Linked DNA regions of Homo sapiens: regions 2, 3 and 4 are each linked to region 1. Evidence: fine-mapped expression QTL. A gene starts in region 1. Each other region holds a variant in brackets. All regions are shown on one strand. Distances are from middle to middle. Region 1 holds the start of TLE4 (TLE family member 4, transcriptional corepressor). Region 2 overlaps TLE4 (TLE family member 4, transcriptional corepressor). Region 3 overlaps TLE4 (TLE family member 4, transcriptional corepressor). Region 4 has its middle 340 kb from the start of LNCARSR.

Region 1 (4,166 bases):
ACTTTTTCCGAATTTTTTCCCTGTCCCCAAGATTAGCCGCTCGCTAGAAAAGACTGCGAGCCTCAGCAGCCTCCCCTTGAACTGGGGCGCTGCCTCCAGCTGGACACGGACTAAGGATGGAAAGGCGCACTGACGGAGGCCGCCCCCATTTCCCAGGCCCCTCCCTAGGGGTGCCCCTCCTCAGCCATGGCTGCCCCTTTCTCTCCTCCTCCAGCATCTGCCCCTGGGGCCACCCCCACCTTTCCGCCATCTCTCGGGCCCGCGTGGCACCCTGCTCTGTTTTTAACGGGGATAAACTTGACTTGCTTCTCCAAAGAGCGGGAAAAAGAGGCGCAGTCTTGGTACTGATCTGGGGGAGGGAACGTCCCAGGGCGCGCAGGGGCGTTTTCTACCCGTGCCCCGTCGGCCTGCTCTGTTCAGTACCGACCGTGTTCGGGGTTCACGTGGCCCAGTCGGCAAAGTTTCTTTGGAGGTCCAGCGTCTCTGATTCCCGGATCTTCAGCCCCACCCGGAGCCCCCACGGTTACTGCCCCCCGCGACCCCCGATGGAGCGTCGGGATGCGCTTTCTCTCCGAGTGCCTCCGGGGGTGGAGGGAGGGAGGCCTGTTTCGGAACTAAATGGCAATCACAGCCCCCGCGGGGCTTGGAGGGACGAGCTCCCCGCCCACCCCGCGGCCCCGGCCCCAGCCAGCATCTCGCGACTCCATTTCTGGCTCTAAACAAGAACGGGGACCGAGTCGCGTTCACACGGAAAATTATGCCGGCTCCAGCGGCGCGTAAAATTGATGTGAACCGAACGAAGTAAGATCAGCGTGATCCTCCCCCTCTTGTCTCAACAGGGGTTTCGGCGCGTTACACAAGGCCGAGCTTGTCTCTTTAAGGAGACATTGGACCCTAATTAGTCCGCATTCCTGGCGCGGCTGCGGAGCGAGGGGCCGAAGGTGTCTGGGTTGGGAGACGGGTGGGCGGGAGGACGAGACTCGGAAGAAGATCTTTTGACCAGCCCCCAGGCTCACCGCTCCCTCCACCCTCTTTATTTTGCCGCCACCACCACCACCACCACCAACACCTAATTCTGAAGATGCAGCCAGGGCAGCAGCAACAGCAGCAGCCGCCGATTCTCCCAGCCCCACGTTACTTTGATTGACAGCTGAACAAATGTTTTCCCGGTTCGAACGCTCGCGCTAAGGAACGTCAGCCAAGGCGAAGCTCCGCCTTGGGCGGGCCATCTCCGCCCCGCCTCCGCCAACCTCATTCCTCTTCGTTAATTGGTCGGAGCTACAGGCGACGCCCGGCCCCCACGTGGGTTTCAGCTGGGTTGGCTCCTCCCCGCTGGCTTGCCATTTGTCAGCAGTGAAATGATGGGCACTAACACAGAACGGCGATTAATGTTCAGCCACCTCTGATTGGTTGGTGGAGACGCCTACCGCAACGGGGGTGGGCGGGGCGCTTGGAGAGCTCGCCAGAGCGCTCGCATGGCGGGCCGGTGATTGTAGTCAATCTGGCCGTATTCTCAGGCAGGGTCGCCCGGGGCGGACTACATCTCCCGGGATGCTGCGCGGCCGCCCCGCGGAAGATTGTGAATATGTATCAGAATGTTAATGATTAGCTGCTGCTAAATTTGGTCAAAGAAGTCACCTACACAGAGCGTGTTGTTAGAGCTGTGCTGAGCGGGTGTTTGGGTTGTTGGCTGCTTTCTTCCCCCTTTCTCACACACTTGTATATTATTTTGAGGTGGTGTTCGCAGAGTTTGAAAGGAGAGAGAATTAAAAAAAAAAGCCGCAAGCGTTTCACTCTTTTATTTTTATAATCCCCTTCAATTTGGGGTTAAAAAAAAGACAAGAAAACAGGAAGGAAGAGAAATAAGGAAATGAGATGTGGTAAAAGAAGCTAAAAGGTGCCTTTTAAAAGATCGTTGCTGTGAAGTGAAAAAAATCTCCAGAGAAACCAAAAAGCACCGCCGAGACCTCTTCCGAACCAAAGGAGTTTGTGTTTGCTTTTAGGGAAGAAGAAAGATCATTCATTCGGAGGAATAACAACCAATTAAAAGACAAATAAAAAAAGTTTGGAGTGGGACGCAGAGCGAGCGAGAGGAGCTGCCGGCGGGCGGTGGGGCGCGGAGCCCGCACTTTCCCGGCCGGGTGAGCGGCGGCCGCGGCGCCGGGCTCGGCGGGTGCGCCTCGGCGGAGCGAACGTCGGAGCGTTGCCTTGGGAGACGCGCGCCGGACAATGCCCGCGGCGGGCCAGTGACGCCCGCGGGGAATGCGGAGCGGCCCGGCAGCCGGCACCCAGCCGCCGCCGCGCGTTCCTGCCGCCCGTGTCACGCGAGACCCGGCGGGGGCCGGGACCGCCCGAGCCGCCCCTCAGACCGAGCCGGCCGCCTCCGCTGCCGCGGCCGCCTCCTCTTCGGGGTCATTAAAGCCAATGAGCCGCGCGCCTCTGCCGAGCGCAGCCAACTAAATCGGCTTGGATGATTCGCGACCTGAGCAAGATGTACCCGCAGACCAGACACCCAGTGAGTGCGGGCGGCGGGGCGCGGGCTCGCCGGGTGCTGGGGGATTCCCCGCGTCGCCCCCTGCGCACCGAGTTGTGTCTTTTGGCCGGAGGGGCGTGGAGAGCCGCCCGAAATCGGCGCCCCGCGCCGGGAGCAGCCCGCCCGCCATCACCCCCACCCCCCGGCGCGGTGGCCCTCGGAGGGGGTGCGGAGAGGCAATTGAGTTGTAGCCATTTTCTTATTGTTGTCTTTGAAGCCCCTGGAAGCCGCGCCGAGCCGTTTGCGGTCCCCGCGCCGCGACTCCTCGAGGGGGGGTGGCGAGCGATGAAGGAGGCGCGACTCCGCGCCCGGGCGGGGAGGGCGCCCTCGGCAGCGGCGCTGCTGGGCTGGCTGCGGTTTGGAAGTGCGGGGCGCCGGCCCCTCGCGCCGCGGGCCGCCGGGGCGAGCGGGCGAACGAACGAGCCGAGAGGGTGGCGGCCGCCTCCCTCCTCCCCCGGCCTGACCGCAGCCCGACGCCATGGCGCGGGTCCCCCCGACGGGCCAGTTTCGATTCCGGGTGAGGAGGGAGTGGGCGCGGCGCGCGGGTCCCTGGGTGCCTGTCTTTGGCCGGGGAGGGGAGACGGGACTCGAACCCTCGGGGTCCGGGGCGCGGGGGCCTGCGGGCGGGAGTATGCGGGGCCCCAGGACCACCTCGAAACCAGCCTCTGCCTGGGCTGTTGGGCGCGAGGAGGGTTGCGGGAGGAGAGTTTTAATCTCTCTTTGCTTGCGTGCGCGATGACCCTCACCCCCCGCTAACGCCGCATAGTAGGTTTTCTCCGTCTCCCTGCTTCGCCTGTGATGTGGGCTAATTAAATATTTTATTGTTGTTCTTCAGGCACCGCATCAGCCTGCTCAACCCTTTAAATTTACAATTTCCGAATCCTGTGATCGGATTAAGGAAGAGTTTCAGTTTTTACAGGCTCAATACCACAGGTAACGATATTGACTTTAGCTGATCCTTCTGTTTGCTTAGCTCTTGTCTCCCCGACAAATACACACAAACACTTACCCTCCTCCTTTTTTGTGGGGGCGTCACAAAGGTATTATTTTTTTTTCTCGGTGGGCAGAAAGGGCAAATCAAGGCCTCCTTCCTTAGGCAGGTGTAAATAAATTAAACATTTCTTCTACCGTAAATAAAAAGAAGGCAGAACAATCGAAACTGGGGAGACTTGGAAAACGCTGAGGCCAAACTTTCGATATTGATTTATTGGGGCCGGGAGAATGAAAGGTTGGGAAGATTCTGGGGCCTTTTGACATCCTTGGTTCTTTATTACTCCGGACTTGATTCCTTCTCACTTTTTTCTGCCATTCCACTGAAGAGCTGAGAGCCCAGGGAAGTCGGAGTGAGCGATTTCATTACTTTTATGCTAAAAAAAAAAAAAATGTTTTCATCTTATAGACGATTTTTAGACTTAGGGTGCCTTTGAGACATTTTTCTTTAGCTGGCTTTTTAATGATGCCTAATTCTTATTTCATAAATGCAAGAACCAAAACAAACCACTGAACCCGATTGACACTTTGCCCCTGGGTGGTGGTATTCAACTTGTCTGTGTGTTTTGGAGGGAAAAAAACAAGATATCATTCATAAGACATGCTTGATTCATATTTTCATTAATCTCTTTGTAGAACATTA
Region 2 (4,166 bases), 120 kb after region 1:
CGGGGTTGAATTGTGTCTCAAAAAGATGTAATAAAATTCTGATCCCCGGTACCTGTGACTGTGACTTTATTTAGAAATAGGGTCTTGGCAGATGTCATCGAGTTAAGATGAGGTCATCCGGGAATCAAGTTGGCCCTGCATCCAGTGACTCATGTCCTTATAAGGAGAGAGAGGTTTGACGATACAGAGGAGGCACAGAAAGGAAGGCCATGAGAAAGCAAAGAGGAAAGACTGGAGTTGTGCTGCCACAAACCGAAGAATGCCAAGGATTGCCAGCAACCACCAGAAGCTGGAAGAGGCAAAGAAGCATTCTTCCCTGGAGCCTTTGGAGGGAGCATGGTCCTGCCAATGCCTTGTTTTCAGACTTGCAGACTCCAGAACCGCAAGAAATAAATGTCTGTTGCTTTAAGCCACCTAGTTTGTGGTGGTTTGTTGTGGCAGCCCCAGGAAACTAATAATGGCTCCCAAGAGCGAAGTTTATCTGTCAGTTGTGTTTCATCATCAGTGAAGTACTTGCTGTATGATGCTAAATCCAGTGAGCATCTACGTTTAATAAGCCCCAGAACTGTACATGTTAAAAGCTTTTAAAATTTTGTCATTTGGTATCATCTGGTCAGGTGCAGACACTGCACTTAGGCTCTGGGGATACTGTGGTGAAAACCCTGAATAAATTTCTGCCCACATGCAGCTCACATTTCACTGGGAAGACACACAGTAATTATAGATTAGCAATAATGACAGTATTGCCTCAGTTTGCGTTTATGTAGCCTACATTCTTCTTCTCCCCCGAATCGTAATTGCCCTTGGATCCAGCCGTGGGTGATGCAACGAGCTCACCATGCTCCTCACTTGCTCATGGGCTTGGGTTAGTGTTGCCATGGCCACGTACAAGTTATACAGAAGCGCAATTCACATGAATCTACGATGTTCTGGTGTTTCCTGGAGTTGTAGCATCTACATCCTGTGTGGTCATATGTGGTGGCCCCATGGGTGCCAGATTTTCTTCCTTGTCTCTCCCTTCAAAAATATCTCTCAAGTGGAGACCTCAGAGCTTTTCCTTCTCTAATCTTTTCAGAAAACAAAACAAAATAAAATTTTGTAACATTCTTTTTTCCTCGTCTTTCATTTTTATAGAACTTAAGTAGTTTTTACTTCTTACATGTTTGATAGAGTTCTCAGCCTACATCAAATATATTTGAATCCAGAATTGTCAACCCTAATGAAGCAAGTCCCTTGTCATTCCTTGGCCTCTTCCTTGCCCTTCCTTGGCCTCTTCCTTGCCCTCTTTTCTTGATGTTGCCTTACTGCTCTTTGTACAGGCTGGTTTCTTTTCACAATACACAAGTGTAATTTGCTGAGCCTCCTATAAGAGGCAGTCCTTAAAATCAGAGGCCTGTCTTCAACTATCAGCCCTTTGTGACCTTGCATGAGTTACTTCGTCCCCTAGGATTCAAGTTTCCTCCTGTTCAAAGTGAAGAGGTTGAGGTAGACAAGTGCTTCTCAAACTTTTAATGAGCGTTAAAAGCACACGATTCAGTAGGTCTGGCAGTGAGACTGGGATTCTGCATTTCTAACAAGCCCTCAGGAGATGCTGTTGGACAGTGGACCACACTTTTTTGAGTAGCAAGAGGCTAGATGATTTCTCTGGTCCCTCCCACCTAAAGATGAGAACTTCCTTCCCTTGTTCCACGTTGAGAAGGCCCACCTTGCTGGTCTTCACATTTTAATAGTCTCACCATCTCTGCACACTGTCTACCAAAGGAAAGGTCACAGTATACTTCGTGCTGTCCTATAGTGCTTATAAGGACCTGCCATCTGCAGTTCTTATTTTATAGCTTGGCCTTCTCCCCTTCAACCCCCGAAAGACTGAAAACCCACTATCTAATGCCTAATTAGAATTAGCCTTCAGGTTACATAGTTTTTGTGACTGTTTCCCTTGGTTATCTGCCATTCCTTCATTTCACAGTAATGGTAGATTTATAACAGTCCTCATAACTGATTAAATGTCTCAATTCTTTTGCTTTATGTGGCGTTCTTGGGCACTTAATTATACTACATTAAATGGTGTCTTGTTGCTGTCAGTGCAGTTGGATTGCAGTATAGATAGCATCTTTGGATATTTTTTAATATGTTCCTATCATACACTTTAAGCTTGTAAATAGAAGTGCTGAGCATGCATAAATGTGTTTTAAGAAATTATTTCTTTATTACTGTTTAGCTGAACTGATGGTGACACTAAACACTGAGGCTTTGATGTTTATACGATATTCTTCCCCACTAATTAACTGCACTAATGAAGTTAATTGTGGGGAAGAATGCCGTATAAAACATCAAAGCCTCGATGTTTAATCACAACTTAAAAAGAAGTTTTATACTCTTCAATTGCCAAATACATTCCAATTAGCTGAAGGAAGGTCAAAAATTCTGTTTTCTTCCATCTCATCTTCAGAGCTTTTCTGGTTGACCATTGGTTACTTGAGCTGCCTGAGTGTTAATCTAGACAAGCTGACAGTGGCATGTGGAGGAC[A/G]ACATATCTTCCCCCAAGCTATAAGCCAGCATAACTGAGAGACTCAGTTTCTGCAAAAGGCAGTGATGACCTCTTCTGTAATGTGTTGATGAAAAATGAATGAACTCACAGAGTAATGCATTTCTCTACCCTCTAATTTTATTATTAGCTTGACCCACTACTCCATTTTCCTATATGTTTCCATATGTTGCTCTTATAAGCCACTTCTCTAATTTCTGATAGGCATATTTCCTTGATGAATTCAGACTGCAAAACCAAGGAAATGTGTATGTGTGTGTGTGGGTATGTTTAAAGGCATAGGGCGTATGTAAGTGGAGGCTTTGCAAAGTTGATAAGAATTCTTAAATGACCAGTAGTAGAACAAGAACTCCTTCTCAGGTCAATTTCCCTGTGGTGTGTGTTACATCAATTTTTATTGTTGTTTTTTTTTTTTCTTAATCAGGCAGGGTTTACAATAGCAATAATGTAATTCAAATAAGCAATTATTGTAATTGACCTTGGCGATGAGTATCCTTGGCTTTTACCACAGTTTGCTTAATACCTGAGGATGGGCAATTATCTCATAATGCCCACTTTATTGAGATTATTGTTTTAATTATGGCACTCAAAATACATCACTTTGTCAGCATTGTAGAGTCAAGCATGGAAGCACTGCATTCAGTATTCAGAAGTGCGTAAAGAGCATCTTGCCTCATCTTATGACATGGTTATGATTGCGTTTTTTCTCTCTCCCAACTGTGGTTTTGAAATGTAGTTCATCCTGACGTGACTGGCTTATAGGGAGAGAAAGTCTGGGATTTGTTGCTGAGCTAATTGTGCTCTCAGAAAGGATGAAGGTGACTTGTGCTGATAGGTAAGCAGGTCTAGTTGATTAGGAGTGGTAATTGATAGCAATCACAGTGGCTTGTTGATTATCTGAATATGCCTTAGGTCAGAGGTTGTCAACTTTAGAATCACCTGGGAGCTTTTAAGATTGCCTGTATCCAGGCCACTTACTTAAGCCTACCCTCTCTGGACAGCGTCTGATTTAATTGTTCTGGGGTGGGTTCCAGATGGGGCTTTTTGAAAGCTCCACAGGTGATTCTTATCCCCTGACAGACCTTAGAACCACTGCCCGGTCCTTTGAATTATTTACTCCTTGCTGATTTGTCTCATTCCAACCATGACCCCATCCCAGATTTTAAGACTCCTTTTGGGGGTCCTTGTTGCTCTATACCTTACTCTTCCTCTCTTTCTTTCCAGACTTAGCCTAAGCCTAGCCACCTCACATGCACATGCTTGAAATAGCCTCAGTGCAGATTTGGGTCCTAGTAATGCTAATTCTTCCCAAGCAGTTCCAGGTCTACCCCTCCCATAGGAAGTGTCAGTGGGTAAATTTCACCTCTTCATAAACGTGAAGTGTCATTTCTTACTAATGCCTCATTATGCTCTTACAATTCAGTTTTCTCTTGGTCACATAAATATGGCTTAACCTTTATCTAAGTTTTTTGAGTAAGGATCAGAATTTATTCTTTAACATCTGTCTTAAGTACTGGGTACCACTTTGTGGAAATTTAATTCTGGTTGATTAGATCAGTAGTTATGAAGTTCCTAGTTGTTTCTCACCTTCTTTGATAAACCTGGAGGATACTGTTCACAC
Region 3 (4,166 bases), 28 kb after region 1:
TCCACCTTCACCTTGTGCTGATACTACCCTTTCACTTTTTTATTTGAACGTCAGTGTCCCATGCTGGTATGGCAGGCTTTGCTGGGAATGGTCTTACCCTTTTCTCTGCCCCTTTCTCCTTTGTGTGTCAGACTCATTTTACCCTCAGTTACTCAGGGAAATAGTCCTCTAAAAAGCATTTAAAAATACCCTGCATTCTGTATTTGTTTCAATGTCTGTCTCATTTGCTAGATTATGGACTCTGTAAGTCCTATCTTGTTCCTGTACTGTTTTTTTCAGACTATAATGCAGTATATGGCAGAGTAGCAGACAATAATCGAAAGTTATGAAATTAATATGGCTCACATTACTCTCTCCCCAAAGCCAGAAGGGTTTTCTTCCCCTCCTCACTCTTAGATTTCCAGGGCTCCTCTGTGTAGTAGCTAGGGCACTTAACACATGGCGTTTGTTATTGTGTTTATTTATATTTGATCTTCCCCCCCCAGATTATAAACACCTCGAGTTCAGATCAGTTTTGCATTCAGAACTGCTGTTTCTACCAGAGCTTCTAGTTTAGAGTAGGAGCCAGTAACTGAAAACATCTTGTTGAATTTCCTAAGTCTGAGGTGCTTTGGAAATTCATTTTGTTCCTATTCTGAAATTATCTTTCATCCTCCATCTTTCCTCTTGTGGTATGTTTTGTGGTTATAAATCTCTTCTTTCCGTCCACAACATTAAATATAATCAGTGCCAAGAGGAGGATGGAGGACAGAAATGCACTGTGGTGTCTTGACCTGTCTGGTACTTATCATAACTTTCCTAGGAATTGACCTTGATGGGCCCTTACTGCCTTCTAAATAAAGTTCAAACCCCTTAGTGTGGCATTCAAGACCTTCCATAGTCTGACCCCAGTGAACCTCTTCTGTCCTTATTTTCCACTCTATTTTTTATTGCATGCATCCTGTGCTCTAGCTTAATGGTTTTCAATCCTGCCTGCACATTAGATTCACCTGGGGAGCTTTAAAAACTGAAGCCAGGGTCCTGTCTTTGGAGATTGTGAGTTAATTCGTCTGGAGTGAGGCCTGGGTGTGGGTGTTTGTGAAAGGTCCACTAGTAATGCTGATGTAAGGCCAGGGCTAGAAACTACTGACAAGCTCAGTGTTTCCCACGGAATATCATCTCCTCTCCGAATTTTGACGAGAAAGGGTCCCAAAGTCAAAGAAGCTTGAGTAGTAATTGCTTTTAATGTGCTCCTTTCCAAAGATGTACAACGAACACTATCAAATGAAAGGCTCTAAGATACCCAACAGTAAAGAAAACTGTTTAACTTTCTTCATAGTGTGTGAGGTCGTCTGATAAGAGACACTTTTATGTATATAATACTTGTTAATAACATCTGCAACATGTGGTATAGAAAATGTTTTTAGCCACTTCTCAACTTTTGAGTCACTTCTTTTTTTGTCCTTCCCTGATCATGTCATCCAAATCAGACCCACCTCCTGCCCCAGGGCTCTCTCTTACACCCCCAATTTTGTCTTCATAGCACTTCTCAGTATCTGAAATTCCTCTTTATATACTTGTATGTTTGCTTCTGTCTCCCTCCACCTATGATGTGAGCTCCATGACCGCAGGGATTTACTTGTCTTGTTCACCCCTCTGTCTTCATTCAGCATCTACAATAGTCCTGACAAATAGTAAGTAGATATTTAATAAGTATTTGTTGAATGGGCAAAAATACACGGGCAGTAATGCATTCGTGGTTTAGGCTTTTTCTAAGGTGCATTTGTTTAAATATTTTAAATTGCCTACAGAATTTAATTTAAAAGCAACCTGAAGTACATTTTAAAAGTAACTAGGAATATAGGAACACAATAGTTTGCTTTACCTTTAATTTTCTCAACCTGCCTAGTCAAGTATTAAAAAAGAAGAAAACAAACAAAAGTGGATGTGAGCCTGATTATAGGGAAAATGCTGTTATTTTTCTGATTATAGAGAGTTTTCAGTTTGTGGTTGGGGACTTGTTTTTTCTGATTTCTCAGCCTGTCTCGGGTGGCTTCCCCCAGCCATTGAAGGAACTTGAGTGAGGAATCAGTGAATGGTAGTGGACTTTGTGTGCAGTACACCACCCCAACAACAAAAACACACAAAAACAGACAAGGAATTAATTTCAGTAAAAACTTCCTAATAATTAAAACCCTCCTACAGTGTGAGAGTATTCAGACAGGTTTGTCAGGGACAGTGGGGAGGCAGTTTGTGTATCAGAATCCGTATGTGGAATCCCAAGTTCGGTTGCCTGCTGCTCAACACGTGATGCTGCAGCAACTCTTGGACCTTGTTCAGAAGGGATTTGAATAGCCTGTTCTCTCTAGGGGTCCTCATGCTGCAGCTGTGCCCATGGCT[C/T]CCCAAGCCTGGCTCTAACTGTGTTGTTTTGAGCAGGGTTAATAAGCACGAACTCGTCTACACATTGTAGTGTGTATAATTCCTGAGCTCCACCACCACACCTTGAATTATCAGGAACTGACCTTTTACTTCCTGTGGACCTAGTGATGCCGTCGCATGAGTAGGCCCTTTCCTTGGGCTATTAAAATCATCAAGTTGGTTCACTCGAGATAACATTATAGAGATTTCTCATGAACGCTGTATACAAGGTGCTCTCCTAGGGTGCTTCTAACAAATCCATCAGTCCAGTGGGTCAGGTGATCAGCAATCTGGTATAAATAATCTCAAGAAGGAGGTTGAGCTGCATTTCCTTTATTATATTTTAAAATAATCTTTAAAACACATATTTTGCCAAGGTTTCAGATAGGAAGCTTTAATCATTTATTCACCCATCAGGAATTGTCCAGAATGAATTTGCATTTCCTTTTGTTGCACACTATGATAATTTATTATTCTTTTGAATAGCATGGTATCCTAAATGCCAGAAAAGATGTGTGATGGGAAACTAAATAAACCATATCAGAATTTAAGCAAGTTTTCTGGATAGATATTCCTTTATGGTTGATATATTAATGTGCTTTAGCTACAGGCATACCTTGTTTTACTGGGTCTTGCTTTATTGTGCTTCACAGAGACTGTTTTTCACAAATTGAAGGCTGTAGCAACCCTGAATGGAGCTGTTCTTCCAATAGCCTGTGCTCACTTCGTGTCTCTGTGTCACATTTTGGTAACTCTCACAATGTTTCAAACTTTCTTATTATTACTTTATCTGTTACATGATTTGTGGTTAGTGATCTTTGATGTTACTATTGTAATAGTTTTAGAGTGCCGTGAACTGTGCCCCCATCAGACAGCAAACTTAATTAATGTGTGTGTTCTGACTGCTTCATGCTATTCCCCCTTCTTTCCCTCTCCTCAGGCTTCCCCATTCTCTGAGACAACAGTATTGAAATTAGGCCAATTAATAACCCTACACGGGAGGGCCTCTAAGTGTACAAATGAGAGGAAGAGTCTCACATCTCTCACTTTAAATCAAAATCTAGAAATGATTAACCTTAGAGTGGAAGGCATGTCGAAAGCCAATGAGCCAAAAGCTAGGTGCGTTGTGCCCAACAGCCAAGTTATAAATGCAAGTAAAAAGAAGTTAAAGGAAATTAAAAGTGCTACTCCAGTGGTAAGAAAATGAAACAGCCTTATTGCTGAAATAGGGATAGTTTTAGTGGTCTGGATAGAAGCTCAAACCAGCCATAATATTCCCTTAAGCCAAAGCCTAATCCAGAGCAAAACCCCTCACTCTCTTCAATTCTATGAAGGCTGAGAGAGATGAGAAAGCTGCAGAAGAAAGGTTTGAAGCTAGCAGAGGTTGGTTCATTAAGTTTAATGAAAGAAACCATCTCCATAATGTGAAAGTACAAAGTGAAGCGGCAAGTACTGATGTGGAATCTGCAGCAAGTTATCTAGAAGATCTAGCTAAGATCATTGATGAAGGTGGCTACACCAAACAACAGATTTGCAGTGTGGATAAGACAGCCTTCTATTGGAAGAAGATGCCATCTAGGACTTTCATAGCTAGAGAAGAGATGTCAGTGACTGGCCTCAAATCTTCAAAGGACAGACAGACTCCCTTGTTATGTGACTAATGCAGCTGGTGACTTTAACTTGAAGCCAATGCTCATTTATCATTCCAAAAATCCTAGCGCCTCTAAGAATTATGCTAAATCTACCCTGCCTGTGTTCTATAAATGGAA
Region 4 (4,166 bases), 350 kb before region 1:
GAATTATCCAGTTCCAGATGTCAAGAGTAAGGAGATTGAGAAACTCTGCTACAGTGCATACATGACTCACTTCACATTTTGGTTACTTGCCAGGGCTTGTAGACATTTGGCTTTGTAATCCCTGCATAACCTCATTCTAAATATCATAAATAGATAGATAGAATAATATGCAATCAGAAAGCTCAAAATAATTTGTCTAATTTGTAATTGAGAAGCTTGCTACCAAATACAATACTAATTATTAAGCCATATGAGGCAGATATTTGGAGGCTCGCAGGAGGTCTTTCCTACTCTGATTATCATCCTACCTGTAACTCACACATGAAAGGACAGTTGAGCAGGCTCAGCTGATGAGTTGCCAAATCTATGATCTAAGGGATCTCCCTAGGAATTCATTACTGATCCACACTTAGAATTTTTAGTATAATACCCTTATGGTTCTGTCAGAAGACAATTTTCCATGAACCTGTCATGTCTCTGAATGTCCTCAGTGTGGTTTCCTTCTGGGCTATCTTTTCATAGATGTCTGGATAGCTAACAACCTTGGAAGATAGTGTCTCCTTCTGGAGCAGAGGGCAGGTTTTCATACTGCCAAGTATAATAAACAGAAAGTCTCTATCAGGAGCAAAGGGCAAGCAGGTTTGTTTATTGCATATTATAAAAAATTCAGGTTCCCTAAGCTCAGCTTTTCTCAACTGTGACATAAAAGCATAGTGTGTGCAGCATCTACCTAGAACCCTCCACATCTCCCTGCCTAGACAAAGGAAACCCATGCTTGCTGTGCAATGAGTAATAAAGTTTTTTGTCTCTGACCCAGGACTCTCATGTCTTCTGCTAGCATGTCAAAAACTGTGAAGAGTCTGAAATTTTACTCTACTTGCAAGGTAACATAAACCCACCAAAGACTTTGATAAATTTTATAAATCTTGTTTTTAAAAACTTGAACTCTACTTTACCTGAGTTAAAGAACATATTTGCCAAACCTTAAGCAATGAATAGCACTGGCACTTGGGCAACTGGTTTAAGAACCACAGAATATTTTTCCTCTCCCAGTACTATTTGTTCTGGCTTTCCTGAAGTTCACTTGGCTATAGCCTTAGTTATGCATATATTTTTTTTGATGCCAGTGAACCATAATCCTTCTTTCCCTCCCTACCCCCTCCCTCCTTCCCTTCATTCCTACTTCTTTTTTTTCTTTCTTTCTGTTTTTGAGACAGAGCCTCACTCTGTTGTCCAGGCTGGAGTGCAGTGGCACAATCTCAGCTCACTATAATCTCTGCCTCCCAGGTTCAAGTGATTCTCATACCTCAGCCTCCTAAATAGCTGGGATTACAGTTGTGTGTCACCACGTCCGGCTTATTTTTGTATTTGTAGTAGAGATGGGGCTTTGCCATGTTAGCCAGGTTGGTCTCAAACACCAGACCTCAAGTGACCCACCTGCCTTGGCCTCCCAATGTGCTGGGATTACAGGCATGAGCCACTGCGCCTGGCTTCTTCATTCCTTCTTTTCTTCCCTCCCTCCTTTCCTTCATTCCCTTCCTCCTTCTCCTTTTAAAACACTCTCTGTAGTCCATATTACTTTTTCTTTGATCTAAATTCATATAGTATTATACTCTGTTGTTGGTGGAGAAAAATAAATCATTGAGTTAGGAATGTAAGCGCGCGCGCGCGCGC[G/A]CACACACACACACACACACACACACACACACACACACAGCTCTTCCAAGCTAAGTTCTCTCTCTCATAATGAACTTTTAATTTATTTTTAAGCAGAGCATATTGTCTTGGAGAAAGGAAAAGAAAAAACTAATTTGTACTCATTTTTTTCCTTTTTTATCTGTTACCATTTATATTCTAGTAATTTCCTCAATAAATTTTGCATCTTCTGCAGATTTGGAGGGCACATGTTTCTTCTCAGAGGTTTCTATTAGAAGCAAGATGTTTTTAATCTTCAGAAAACTTTAATGCTTTGGCATAAACAGAGCAGTCTTAAAACACAACTTCAGTGTTTTCTCCCAATAGTTGTGTTTTATCAGACATACAGTGTTTTTCTGGGGATAATGCAATATCCTGAAGAAAGAATTCAGATTTAGTTGAGTTTAGTTTTGTTTCATTTTGTTCAATTCATACTTTGCGGGGCGGACAACTAATGAGTAAAGTAAGAATAATCTGTGATACAATTCTCATTACATGTTGTGATACATTTGAGTCATCATATTTGATGACCTGTTGTCAGATGTCATATGTATGTCACTGGAATCAGAGGGCCCTATGAATGTCTTTCCATAAAGTTCTGTTGTTTTCATTCAGTCCTGTTTGATACAATTTCACTGATATTACTAATTTCTTCATCTCACTCTTTCTCATAATCAGGTAATCAATTGGTCAACATAGCCAGCCAAAGCATCACAAAAAAATGCACACTAGAATAAATCTAATCCATTATGCCATAAACAGGGTTTCTGCATATTTGGTTGGACATGGGCTTTGAAGTAGGAGAAAACTGAATTCAAAATCTGGCACCCTCCCTTACCCTTTGATTTTGGACAAGTGTATTCCATCTATATGAGCCTTAATTTCTCTATTAAACATCCACCTTGCAAAGTTTGAATCAAAGATTCAAATAGAACAATGTACGAAAAGCACTTAGCCCAACTCCTGATGCAACTAGGTATTTAATCAATTTTGACTATTTTAGTCATTGTTTAGTGGGGCAAAAAGTACAAAAAGATAGCAAATGACCCTTCAAATTATTAATTGCTTTTTGCTTTCAAGAGACTTTGAGAGTCTAATTTTTACCTTTTCAAGCTATTTAATCTGTTATCAAGAAGACATTGACAAGAGACAAACTGAAAGTTTATTTTCAGCTTTCTTCCTGAGGCCACCCTATTAACAGGGGCTACAGCTGAATGCTTCTTGCTCATGAGGACTCTGACTACTGGGGTTACCACAAATCTGGGGATCCAGTGAAAGATAGTGGTGGGGTTTTCATTCATCAGCACTGAATTGGCTCTAGTTTCTTCCTGGTCTTTCTCTTGCTTATGTCTCTCGGGCTACCCAACCAAGGTCACATTCAGAGTATCATTGCTGCCCCAAAAGACTTTCACTGGAGATGTTGCCAATGACATGCTCTTCCCTAAGGCAAAGATTCTTCGATTTTTGATCAACAGTCTTCATTTGGTTCATTTGTATAAATTATTAGCTGGTGGATAAGTAATTGCAGTCTTCGCCATTACTTTTAATGGCGAAGACCACAATTATGTTTGCACCAACCTATTTTTTCTGTTTGATTTTCATCTTTTAAAATTATTTGCTTTTTAATGTTCAAAATCCAAGTATCTGAGAACTATGTACATATTCATACATTTCACCATATCAAAGTATTTATAACAAATAAGGTTTTATGTGATCTATAATTTAATGTTTTGTTTGTTTGTTTGTTTGTTTTTTGAGAAGCAGTCTCACTCTATCTCCCAGGCTGGAGTGGAATGGCGCGATCTCGGCTCACTGCAACCTCCACCTCCCGGGTTTAAGTGATTCTTCTGCCTCAGCCTCCCGAGTAGCTGGAACTAGAGGCGCCTGCCACCATGCCCGGCTAATTTTTGTATTTTTAGTAGATATGGGGTTTCACCATATTGGCCAGGATGGTCTCGAACTCCTGACTTCGTGATTTGCCTGCCTCGGCTTCCCAACGTGCTGAGATTACAGGCATGAGCCACTGTGCCTGGCCAACTGAATGTTTTAAATTATGCTGTATCTCTTAAAACACTTAAAAATAAAATCTTATGAATCACCGATTTATTAATACAAGGCAACTAACAACAAAGAGCCTAGAGAGACTTTAGGTCTCTTTCTTAAAGAAGTTCATAATTTAATAACCTCTCTGGGCTTCATTTTCTTTATCTTTAAAGTAAGGACACTGAACTTGACTTTCTCCAAGATTCCCCAAGGGAGGTTCCAAGGCTTTCTAATACAGTCATGTTATATGTTATATAACCAAGCACTCAGAGCAGTTCCTGGCCATTTGTGAGGAAGGAGAATAGGATCTGGAGGCAGGGAACCTATGACTGATTTGCACTAACTTCCTAGAACGAATCGAAAGGAAAACCCCACCTCTCCACACCAAAGTAACAAAAGGATCAGAGGCTACTCTTTTTGCACTTCATCGT

Evidence for each region. PIP is the estimated chance that this variant, and not a neighbour inherited with it, causes the effect.
Region 2: its variant is the best candidate, but not a certain one, in a credible set for the expression of TLE4 in whole blood (TOPMed, PIP 0.52).
Region 3: its variant is the best candidate, but not a certain one, in a credible set for the expression of TLE4 in whole blood (INTERVAL, PIP 0.76).
Region 4: its variant is the best candidate, but not a certain one, in a credible set for the expression of TLE4 in fibroblasts (GENCORD, PIP 0.54).

Annotation. Positions count from the first base shown.
Region 1 is chr9:79,570,321-79,574,486 of GRCh38, forward strand. TLE4 (TLE family member 4, transcriptional corepressor) reads left to right here and starts at 1,645. Exons shown (of 20, transcript NM_007005.6): 1 at 1,645-2,515; 2 at 3,369-3,466. The coding sequence starts at 2,471. RefSeq lists silencers at 117-166, 2,077-2,196, 2,257-2,416, 2,527-2,996, 3,017-3,256 and enhancers at 1,527-1,656, 1,667-1,716, 1,757-1,846, 2,574-3,186.
Region 2 is chr9:79,686,380-79,690,545 of GRCh38, forward strand. The region is part of intron 8 of TLE4 (TLE family member 4, transcriptional corepressor); the gene reads left to right. Among named protein-coding and RNA genes, the nearest start is that of TLE4, 120 kb to the left of the region's middle. The variant A/G (reference allele first, on the strand shown) is at 2,528.
Region 3 is chr9:79,598,365-79,602,530 of GRCh38, forward strand. The region is part of intron 4 of TLE4 (TLE family member 4, transcriptional corepressor); the gene reads left to right. Among named protein-coding and RNA genes, the nearest start is that of TLE4, 28 kb to the left of the region's middle. The variant C/T (reference allele first, on the strand shown) is at 2,380.
Region 4 is chr9:79,224,860-79,229,025 of GRCh38, forward strand. No RefSeq gene overlaps it. Among named protein-coding and RNA genes, the nearest start is that of LNCARSR, 340 kb to the right of the region's middle. The variant G/A (reference allele first, on the strand shown) is at 1,675.